3 linked regions of the Homo sapiens genome follow. The gene in region 3 interacts genetically with the main gene of each other region. Each region holds a gene or a part of one and is shown on either strand. Other genes may lie near its edges.

Region 1 (3,651 bases), on a different chromosome or scaffold from region 3:
GGGATGGCAGCACAGCGAATCAGATCTTCCAGGAGCAAACACTGCCGAGCGATGAGGATGGCAACAAAAGTAGCCAGCGAGTCATGAAAAGATAGGTCACTGACCTGGAGGAAAAAACAGACAGACACCATGACTCAGTGTGGAGGCCCACTCAAAGCGGTGTGCCTCCACTCTACGGAACTCTGTCCCTGGTCAGAGGATCACAACCAGCCCCCTGCCCTGGTCACTGCCCCACTAGCAAAACCCCACCCCAAGTCTCACATCAACATTGCAGAGGAGATCGTTGAAACCACAAGTGCCATTGTTAGAGGAGCAGCACAAGGCCTTAAGCACTCCTAGCCATTCTGCACTCAGTGACTTGCAATAGCCGGTCAGCTCTGCACACAGGATTGCGATGTCATTCACCCTAGGGAAAAGTACAAATGCCCTCAGGAAAAACCTTGCTCCACAAAACCTCAGACCCATTAACTTCTCATCTCTGCCCCACTAAATAATCAAGGTTGTAGTACCTCCCGGGTACCTCAGCCCTCCCTATCTCAGATGGGGGCATGGTGCCCTTCCTCACTCAGTACACCCCATACCTATCGGGATCATGGTGCCCCACACAGACGTGCATAAGGGCATTGCAGACAAAGCTGTAGCGGTTAGCAGGGTTCTCACTAAGACTCTTGCCTAGCCCCGTGTAGGTGAAGGTGTGAGCTGCAGGGTTCTCTAGAGTGTCGATCATGAACTCAGGTGCCCAGCGCATATTTGATTCCGATGGCTCCACGTTGCAGTAGATGGTGTTCTTCACCTTTGAGCAAAAGTCGCTGCAGGGATGGAGGAAAGGAGATAGTAGTGTTGAAGAAGGCCTGCTGAGGTCGAGGGATGGTCAGGAAAGGGGAGAAAAGAAAAAAAGGAGAAAGTGAGGGATGAAGGATCTTGAGACAAGAAAAGGGAGATGGGACAAAACAGACTGGGCAGGAAAGGAACCACATGGGAATAAGGAACTGGGGCCTCTGAAGGCAGTGAGGAAAAGGGGGAAGAGGGTGGGCCCCACAGATATAGGCGGGGAGCAAGCCTGCTGAGGAAGAGGGCCCACTCTTGGTAACACAACAGTATGTGGAGGACACAGTCCACAAATGACCCTAGACAGGCAGCAGGGTCCCGGGCCATCCTCTCCTCCTGAGTTGGGTGGTCATGGGAAGAAGGGAGTAGGTCCCACTCGCTACCCCTTACCTTCCACCTCTCTTACCTGAAGAGCTCCCCAAATTTGTTCTTTAAATGGCTACAGGAGGTGTACAGATCATAGAGATAAGCAAGGATACAGCGCTCTGCAGAGGAGCCATCGGACCGGTTCATCCCATGCTTCACGACGCCACACAGCCTGCATGAAGAAGCAAGGTTGGGAGGGTCAGCAGATGGTATGCGGGCTCCTCCAAACAGATTCAAGCCTCTGGGAAATACCATTCTTTTCCCACCTGAGCAGCAGGTGCTTCCCCAGAGTGTGAGGAAGTGCATGCTCTTCCCAGGCCACTTCCACCGGCATTCGCCAGAGCTTTGTTTCAGTTATTCCGAAGCTCTGCTTACCCCTCAAAGACCTGTGCCATCTGGTCCTGGTTGAGGATGAGGCAGGCATGATAGTGCCGCAGGACAGCCACGATGCACAGGCACAGGCTAGTAGTGTAGCTGCCCACCAGATCCGAGGATTTGAGAAGCAGCTCAGCCTCAACTACACTCAGTTCATTCAGCAGCTAGCAGAGTAAACGGGGGTGAGAAATGCAAAGAGGCCCCTTGTGTTACATAGAAACCACCTTCCTGTGGGGACGCTGGCAAGGCTGGGCCTGAGCCCCTTCCTGCTGGAGCCACCACAGGATAGAAGGGCTCGTTACCCTATGCCACAGTCTATCAACAACACCTCTATTGATAGTTTATTGTTGATAGTTTATTCTATCAACAACACCTCTAACCAGTGTCCAGGATACAGTTCTATGAACTCCACAGTGGGAGGATGGTCTGTGCCCAATGCTCTAATCTGCCTCTTGGCCTCCCCAGGGAGCACTTAAGTCTCTATTCCTGCAGTCTTAGCTCATGTTCCACTCCCCCCATGCTAGTCTTTCTGCCCCTTCAAATAGCTTGGGAAACTGGCTGGAGCCTCTACGCCTGTCCTTATGACCCTCCGTAGCCGCTATATGGCATGAACTCCTGCCTCCACCCTCATCTCCCCAACTTCCCCACCTGAATGGCAAAGTCGATGAGGCCACTGATGCTGAGTGAATATTCCATGAGGTCGAAGATGAACTGCACATGCTGCACCAGAGGCAAGTGGTATGACATGCCAAGGGCAAAGCTCGTGATCTGCTCCAGAACATTCCGGGAGACCTGATAAGGGCAGTGGGAGTGAGATGGGAGTGGAGAGAGGAAAGAACCAGGGAAGGAGGAAAGGATGACACTGGAAGGGGATGAGACCAGGAGGCTTAGCCTGCCTAGCAGGGAGAAGATAGGGAAGAAAAGGAAAACAGAACAGGAGGCCAGAATGTGGGAAAGGGGCTGGGCTTAGGCCCACACCTGAGCCGTGACCTGGTGTTGGTCATAATGTGAAAGGTGCTGGAACTTAGCAAAGATATCTTCAGCAGTGGGGAAGGCTTCAGGCCGGTTGCGTCGCCGCTTCTGCCCATCCTCCCCACCTGAGGGGACAGTTGAAAGGGACCAGTCAAGACAGGGAAGATAACTAGTTGACTAGGGGTGGGGAGTGGGGTATGGAGAGAAGGCTATGGGAGGGAGGGAGGGAGAGATGGAAGGAGGGAGGGAGGGAAGGAAGGAAGAGGGAAACAGGGAAGGGAGGGTCAAGGAAGGGATGGGGGAGGAATGAAGGGAAGGGGACAGTGAAGCAAAGGTTTAGAGGACCACAGACTATGTGGACCTTAAAGGAATATGTACAGGGAGGTGCTAGGTTCAGGGAGGGAAGGGAGAGGGAGGGAGGGCAGTATGGGGCTTACTGTGAGGTACCTAAGAATGTCAGGTCTCCAGGATTCAGAGGCACAATAGGAGCAAGCTGGTCTGTAGAGGGGGGGAATGAGGGGGGAAGTTTCAAAAGGACTAGAGCTCTCAGGAGACTCCAAGAGACAGGACATTGGGACATGACTGGGGAGTTCCCTATACTGGGGAAGGGAAGACTGACTAGGGCATTCTTTGGGGGAGATCTGTTTAAGGAGCCTCAAACCCACCAGTTTCTGCTGTCCCTTTGCGGTTCAGAACCTTCAAGATATCCTTGGTGATTTTCTTGATGGCATGGCGGGCATCATCTCGCTGCTTTCCCACCCCAAACAGTACGACCAACCGCTGGTTGCACTCATGGCTGCATGACTCCTCCTGCATCCCAGCAGCACCATCAGACTCCAGCACCGATCTCCTTCCCTCCTCTTGAAAGCATGCTCCACACCCCTCAGCATCCACATGCTAAAGCCCTTCCCTTTCCCAACCCACATCCTCAGAACAGCTCCAACCCCTCAGCAAATTCCTTTGACAGCAATCTGGGTTCAAAACAGATCATCACAAGGTGCTGGGGAATAGTACCTGGGGGATGGGAAAATGGGTGGCGTACTGCACGTGTCGTGGCTGGTCGTAAAGAACCCCAAGGGTCCCTTCAATCTTCTCCTTGGGTGGGGGCTT
Region 2 (3,651 bases), on a different chromosome or scaffold from region 3:
ACTGAGGTGTGAACTGGCCAAAGGAAGATGGGGTATCTTGTCGGCTGCTGGAGAAGCTTGTGTCCTGGGAGCAGGGGGTGCCGTTGCCAGGAGTGCCCACCGCAGTGGTGCCTGCTGGGTAGGCAGCTGTGTCAGAGGAAGAGCGGCGGCGGGATTCGGCCTAGAGCGACAGAGCAGGGCAAGGAGAGAGGAATGGGCTCAAACACCACTTGAGACCTGCCCTTTCCCAAACCAGGAATCCTAGTTCCCTTTTTTTTTTTTTGAGACGGAGTCTCGCTCTATTGCCCAGGCTGGAGTCCAGTGGCGTGATCTCGGCTCACTGCAAGCTCCGCCTCCCGGGTTCATGCCATTCTCCTGCCTCAGCCTCCCAAGTAGCTAGGACTACAGGCGCCCACCACCATGCCTGGCTAATTTTTTGCAGTTTTAGTAGAGATGGGGTTTCACCGTGTTAGTCAGGATGGTTTCAATCACCTGACCTCATGATCCACCCGCCTCGGCCTCCCAAAGTGCTGGGATTACAGGCGTGAGCCACTGTGCCTGGCCCCTAGTTCCCTGTCTTTTGAAAGCATCTCAGCAGCTTTGCTTGGCTCTTCTTTGTTTAACGGGAAAGCCCGGAACCTCCCGAAGACTGCTCCTGCTCCGGGCACCCGGACACCATGCCCACATGGCTAGGGGCTGTGGTAGCCACAAACTTCTCACCGTCTCAGTGGCTGCACCCGAGCCTTGGAACTTCTCACTCAGGGCCTTGCCCCCAGTGGGCACAGTCTGAGGGGTGTAGGAGCCATTGACAATTAGTTCATAGTATTTCATTCGTTGTTGTCCTGGAGGGAGGGAAATGGGAACCAATTGTCAGATGGAGATACTAACTCCTTCCTGATCTGGTATTCCTGCTTTCTCAGGCCTCAAGTTTCCTACAATTTCTTGGAATCTGGGTTTCAGGATTTCAGTTCTCCTACCATAACTCTACCTTTGGGACCTTCTACCTTATCTCTACCTCTAAACTACCACAAACAACATATTTTATGACACTTCACGATTTATCAAAAACACTTCTACTTATTTTACCATGTTGGATCACCAGAAGGGAAGCATCAGTACCTCTGTTCTAGAGGCTTAAAAGCGACCTACACAAAGTCACAGAATTGGTCATTGGAAAAATTGGAATTCAAACCCAGAGGCTCGATCACCCCATGCTCTTTATCCTGTAAACTAAAGCATGCAGAACAGCAACCGGGGGACTAACGGAGCCTGCAGGAGCTGTGGAGTGAACACCTCAGAAACACCTTGTGAGGAAAGAAACATGGTATTTAAAAACCATGAGATTTCACACAAAAACCCAAATTTCTGGCTTGAGTGCAGTGGCACGATGTAATCTCCACCTCCCAGGTTCAAGTGATTCTCATGCCTCAGCCTCTCGAGTAGCTGGGATTATAAGCATGAACCACCACGTCCGGATTTTTGTTATTTTTAATAGAAATGGGGTTTCACCATGTTGACCAGGCTGGTCTCGAGCTCCTGTCCTCAGGTGATCTGCCCACCTTGGCCTCTCAGAGTCTTGGGATTACAGGCGTGAGCCACCGCATGCCCGGCCCTGGCTTTCTTTTACAAACCAAATTCAAGAATGTTAAACCTCATTTCCACTTGCAAACTGGCCAGTGCCTACTAATGGCTGCCTCCTCCAGACAATACTGCAATCTGCAGCTCGCCACAGACCCCACTGCTCCCCATCACTCAACACAGAAGCCCAGACCACCTCGCTTGTGTTCACAGCTCCTTTACTCTCTATCTCAAATTTCCAAACCTAAAAACCCAGAAAATCCAGTATTTCTGAGAATCTGGCACCAAAACCTATATGGGTTATAGAATAGCATATAGAAAGATTAAAAAGAGGCCAGGCATGGTGGCTCATGCCTGTAATACCAGTACTTTGGGAGGCCGAGGCAGGCAGATCACTTGAGGTCAGGAGTTCAAGACCAGCCTGGCTAACAGGGTGAAACCCTATCTCTACTAAAAATACAAAAATTAGCCGGGCGTAGTGGCGCATAAATGTAATCCTAGCTACTCAAGAGGCTGAGGCAGAAGAATCACTTGAACCTGGGAGGTGGAGGTTGCAGTGAGCCAAGATCGTGCCACTGCACTCCAGCCTGGGCGACAGATTGAGATTCCATCTCAAAAAAAAAAAAAAAAAATTAAAAACAGGCTGGGCAGTGTAGTGAGACTTCATCTCTGCAAATAATCAAAAAAACTTTGGCCAGGTGTGGTGGTGCATGCCCATAATCCCAGCTACTCAGGAGGCTGGGGTGGCTGAGCCCAGGAGCTGGAGGCTGCAGTGAGGAAAGATCACGCCACTGCTCTCCAGCCTAGGTGACAGAGCAGGATCCTGTCTCAAAAACCAACCAAGCAACCAACCTGACCTGGGCTGATTTACTACAATCTATTCATCTTACCTAGTACAACCCTTCATATGATTTTTTTTTTTTTTTACAGATAGTTATGTGCTTGATTATGGCCTATTGCCCGACCTTGCTGGAGACACCACACACACAAAAATCCATGTACCATAATTCCACTCTAAAATCTGATCTGATTTCAGAAACACAACTGGCCCCAGCAGTTTCAGATCATGACCCTGGGCGCCTGCCTGACCCTGACAGGCATTTGCATGTACAACCTCCGCTGGAGGCCAAGCCTGAGTGGCAGGCAGAGGAGTCCTCACCTTTGATGTCAAGCTGGGCATGGATGATGTTGCCCATGACGGAGGTAAGGTGGAGGTTTTTGACCGTTTCCTTGGCGCCCCGAGTGCTGGTGAAGAGCACACGGGCCAGGCCCAGGTGCTTGCGCGTACGGGGGTGAAGGAGGATCTCTACCTCTTCCACCTCACCGTACTTACGGCACATATCCTTCAGGAAGGTCTCCCGCACGTTGTCATTCAGCCTTGCAAAAGTCACTTCCTTCAGTGGAATCTGTCCAATATAGAACTCGTCCAGCTGGGGAAAGAACAGGAGTTGGTATGGGGTCTCAACACTGACCACTGTTCCTTTGTCCTTCGGGAAACTTTAGCAAGCTCCATGAAGTCAAGAGAGAGATCCGGGAAAGTGAGGGGCAAGGGAAGGGGCCCAAAATAAGGGATCCATCAGACCTGACCCCTTTTCCCTGAATTCTTCTCACCACAGAATAACAGCAAGAATTAAGAACAGAAATGTGCAAACTAGGCCGGGTGTGGCAGCTCACACTTATAATCCCAACACTTTGGGAGGATGAGGTGGACGGATCACCAGAAGTCAGGAGTTCAAGACCAGCCTGTCCAACATGATAAAACCCTGTCTCTACTAAAAATACAAAAAAAAAAATTTAGCTGGATGTGATGGTGGGCACCTGTAATCCCAGCTACTCAGGAGGGTGAGGCAGGAGAATCACTTGAACCTGGCAGGCAGAGGTTGCACTAAGCCGAGATCACACCACTGCACTCCAGCCTGGGCAACACAGCGAGACTCCGTCTCAAAAAAAAAAAAAAAAAAAAAAAGAAAGAAAGAAAGAAATGTACACACTGAGGAATAAATATACGTGGAGAGAACGAGCTACAGGGCGATGATTTCCTAGCTCAGCCTTTACTAGGTAACTACCATGAACGAGGCACTGGAAATACAGAGA
Region 3 (2,903 bases):
AACTTCCGTAAGTCCATTCTGATACAATCTTCCATGCAGAATCCCAAATAATTTTGGTAAATACTCAGTTCTCTAGAGGTGAGCATAACCCCTGCCACTTAAGTGTGGGCTGCATATAGTGACTTCCTTCCAAAGAATTCAGTATGGAAAGGCAGCAGAGAGTAACTTTACAGTGAGAAGACCCGACAAACATGACCTCAGCCAAAGGGTCAAGCTCACCATCAACGATGAGTCATGTTGCTAGCATGTGATGAGAACCACACATGATACGATGTGATCAGAACCACATTTCACCTCTAGTCTTCCTCTCCATAACCCACAATCCCAGTCTACTCATGAGAAAAGCATCAGACAAACCCCAACTGAGGGATGTTCTACAGATACCTGATCAGTCCTCCTCAAAACTGTCAGGGTCATCAAGAACAAGGAAAATCTAAGAAGATGTCACAGCCAAGAGGCATCTAAGGAGACATGACAACTAGTTGTAATGGGTTATCCTGGATGGGATCCTGGGACAGAAAAAGGACATTAGGTAAAACTGAGAAAATGTGAACGCAGTAGAATAATGCATCAGTATTGGTCATTCACGGTGACAAATGTGCTATCTGATGTAACACGTTAACAAGAAGGGAAACTGGGTACAAGATACATGGGAACTCCCTATTGTATGTTCACAATGACTCTGTACATCTAAAACTGTTCTGAAAAGTTTATTTTTAAAAAACTTAGAGAGAGAGAGAGAGAGAATCAAAATAACCTATGAAGATTTATAGAAAACACACCAGGTAAGGAAGGGTTCTTTCAAAGCAACCACAGGAACAGTTACGATAACTTAAAAAGAAATGCTTTCCACACTGAACTGACAGCGCTGCAGACCACGCCTGAGTGGGGACGGCAGCCCCAAGCCCAGGGGCAAGCGCCCACAGGCTGGACCCAGGCCAGGCACACCTGGGGAGTCTCTTACTGCTGAAAACCTCAGCCATCTCACTTCATGTACTTATCCTGCTGGTCAGCCAGGATTTTGGCGGAGGACTTGGCATCATAGAAAAGTTCACTGATCTCTTCGACATGCTCTTTCTCAATGCTGTCCTTCCCGTTGATTTTAGCAAGCAAGTTGGCCGGGGTCAGCAGCTGCACTGAGTACCTAGAGTGGACAGGGGCCAGGGCTGGAGTGAAACTGGGGCCACCGAAGAAAGCACCTTCCCCCCACATCAGTAGGCAGCACTGGCACCAGGAGCAGAGCCCAGTGCTGGGCTTGTGCCAGCTGCTACGAACACAGAAAAGGGGAGACAAAGTTGTCACTTCTCAGAGAGCTGCAGTCATTATCCCATCAGAGAGGGTCCAGGAGCCACCAAGAAGACATAAGTGCTATTCCCCAAATCTTTAGTACAGTCTACAAATCCTCCAGTAGGAAGTAATGTCACTGCTACTGGAAAAGGACTGCAAACTTATATGTATACAGGTGTCCGACAGATAGGGATATTTAACATGGCAGGGAAATGAAAACATAGCCAGCTGGAAGTACATGCCCATCCAAAGGCATGAAGACTCTGCCGTTTTAAAAAGTACCCCTTCATCCAAACCTCACAGCTTGCATTTCTGCCTTCAACCTCAGGAGCAAGAACTGACTCAAGGGATGTAGGGAAGGGCTGAGGACTGTGAAGCAATGATTTTACAATGAGTCAGGCCACTGTGAAGGGACATGCTCTGCCGGTCCTGTGTTTGAGCCGCTGGAGAACAATTAGGAGAACTGTCTATGTCTGCGCTCCTCCCTGGCTCTCCATATCCACCACCCAGACATTTTTTATTTGCTTGATGGTTAAATAAATCAAAAAAGTTAAAGATTTACCAGGCCTCATAACACCACCGGGAGAACAGGAGCCAGGGCCCTGGCTAATGAGCTACCACATGGTCCCTGCTCTCTAGTTCTGTGCATCTTCTCTGCCACAAGAAGGCCCAGGGTCAAAGCACTCTCCACCAGAGGGGAGCATCTGCTGCAGGACATGGGGACTTCACCCTTACTCTAGCTTGTTAAAAACCATCAGATAGATCCTCTGCATTTGAAACTCAAGTGCCCTGGCACCCATCGCGCCAGGAAGAGCGGATGGATAGAGTCCCATGCCCTAGGAAGGGACCTGCCTTTATTGTCCAGAATGACCCCAGCGAGGGCCCTGGCTGTGCTGGGGAGGCCCCGGCGGGCCCAGGGTACCAGCTCACCTCAGTGTGGTCTTGGTGCCAATCTCCCCCAGGTGGTTCAGTGCCTCCTCACTGATGTTGATTCCTTCCGTCTGGGCACGGATTTTAATGATCTTTTAAAGGATAAAAAACATGATCAACGGTGACTGACCTCAAGTGCCCCATTTCTAAAGTGCTTTAAAGACAATGTTGCTCAGATTTCTCACTGTGCAGCATAAGAGAAACTGAGACCTGGGTTGGTGGGCAGGGAGCCAACGCCTGCCCAGCACTGCCGGCCCGGCACCCTCCAGGAGGCATGTGCGGCCCTGCAGTATGCATGAATAGCATCACGGCCAGTGTGCTGTATTCAACTGACTCAAGTGTGGCTGGTGCCCAAGGAGGTATGCAGCTTCCCAAGTGGCTCACTCTTGCCTCCATGTCCTCCCGTCCCCTGTCCCCAGGCAGAGAACTGGGGCCTCTTCTAACCTACCCGGGGCTCCTGCAAGGGCTCTAACCTTCCTCTCCAGCATGGGCACTACTGCCTACAAGCACTCAGGCAAGAAGGGACATTTTTTATTTGCTTGATAAATATGATGGTTAAATAAATCAAAACAGTTACTTTTAAAGATTTACCAGGCCTCATAACATCACCGGGAGATATCTAATCTATCAAGAAGAGGCTGACGCTTGTTGCAGTTTGAAGATCTTGGTAGAGTTGGAGGGGAGGC

Evidence for each region.
Region 1: changes in RUVBL1 (region 3) and MED12 together harm fitness less than expected from each alone (positive genetic interaction), as found in Homo sapiens cells (one large-scale study listed by BioGRID).
Region 2: changes in RUVBL1 (region 3) and SETD1A together harm fitness less than expected from each alone (positive genetic interaction), as found in Homo sapiens cells (one large-scale study listed by BioGRID).

Annotation. Positions count from the first base shown.
Region 1 is NC_000023.11:71,125,051-71,128,701, reverse strand, and holds part of MED12 (mediator of RNA polymerase II transcription subunit 12), read right to left. Parts: coding exon 3,556-3,651; intron 3,352-3,555; coding exon 3,207-3,351; intron 3,040-3,206; coding exon 2,989-3,039; intron 2,667-2,988; coding exon 2,548-2,666; intron 2,362-2,547; coding exon 2,218-2,361; intron 1,734-2,217; coding exon 1,570-1,733; intron 1,367-1,569; coding exon 1,235-1,366; intron 810-1,234; coding exon 582-809; intron 407-581; coding exon 262-406; intron 105-261; coding exon 1-104. UniProt on the Homo sapiens protein: Component of the Mediator complex, a coactivator involved in the regulated transcription of nearly all RNA polymerase II-dependent genes.
Region 2 is NC_000016.10:30,960,603-30,964,253, reverse strand, and holds part of SETD1A (histone-lysine N-methyltransferase SETD1A), read right to left. Parts: intron 2,988-3,651; coding exon 2,717-2,987; intron 822-2,716; coding exon 700-821; intron 161-699; coding exon 1-160. UniProt on the Homo sapiens protein: Histone methyltransferase that catalyzes methyl group transfer from S-adenosyl-L-methionine to the epsilon-amino group of 'Lys-4' of histone H3 (H3K4) via a non-processive mechanism.
Region 3 is NC_000003.12:128,080,266-128,083,168, forward strand, and holds the end of RUVBL1 (ruvB-like 1), read right to left. Parts: intron 2,310-2,903; coding exon 2,218-2,309; intron 1,145-2,217; coding exon 985-1,144; 3' UTR 545-984; downstream 1-544. UniProt on the Homo sapiens protein: Possesses single-stranded DNA-stimulated ATPase and ATP-dependent DNA helicase (3' to 5') activity; hexamerization is thought to be critical for ATP hydrolysis and adjacent subunits in the ring-like structure contribute to the ATPase activity.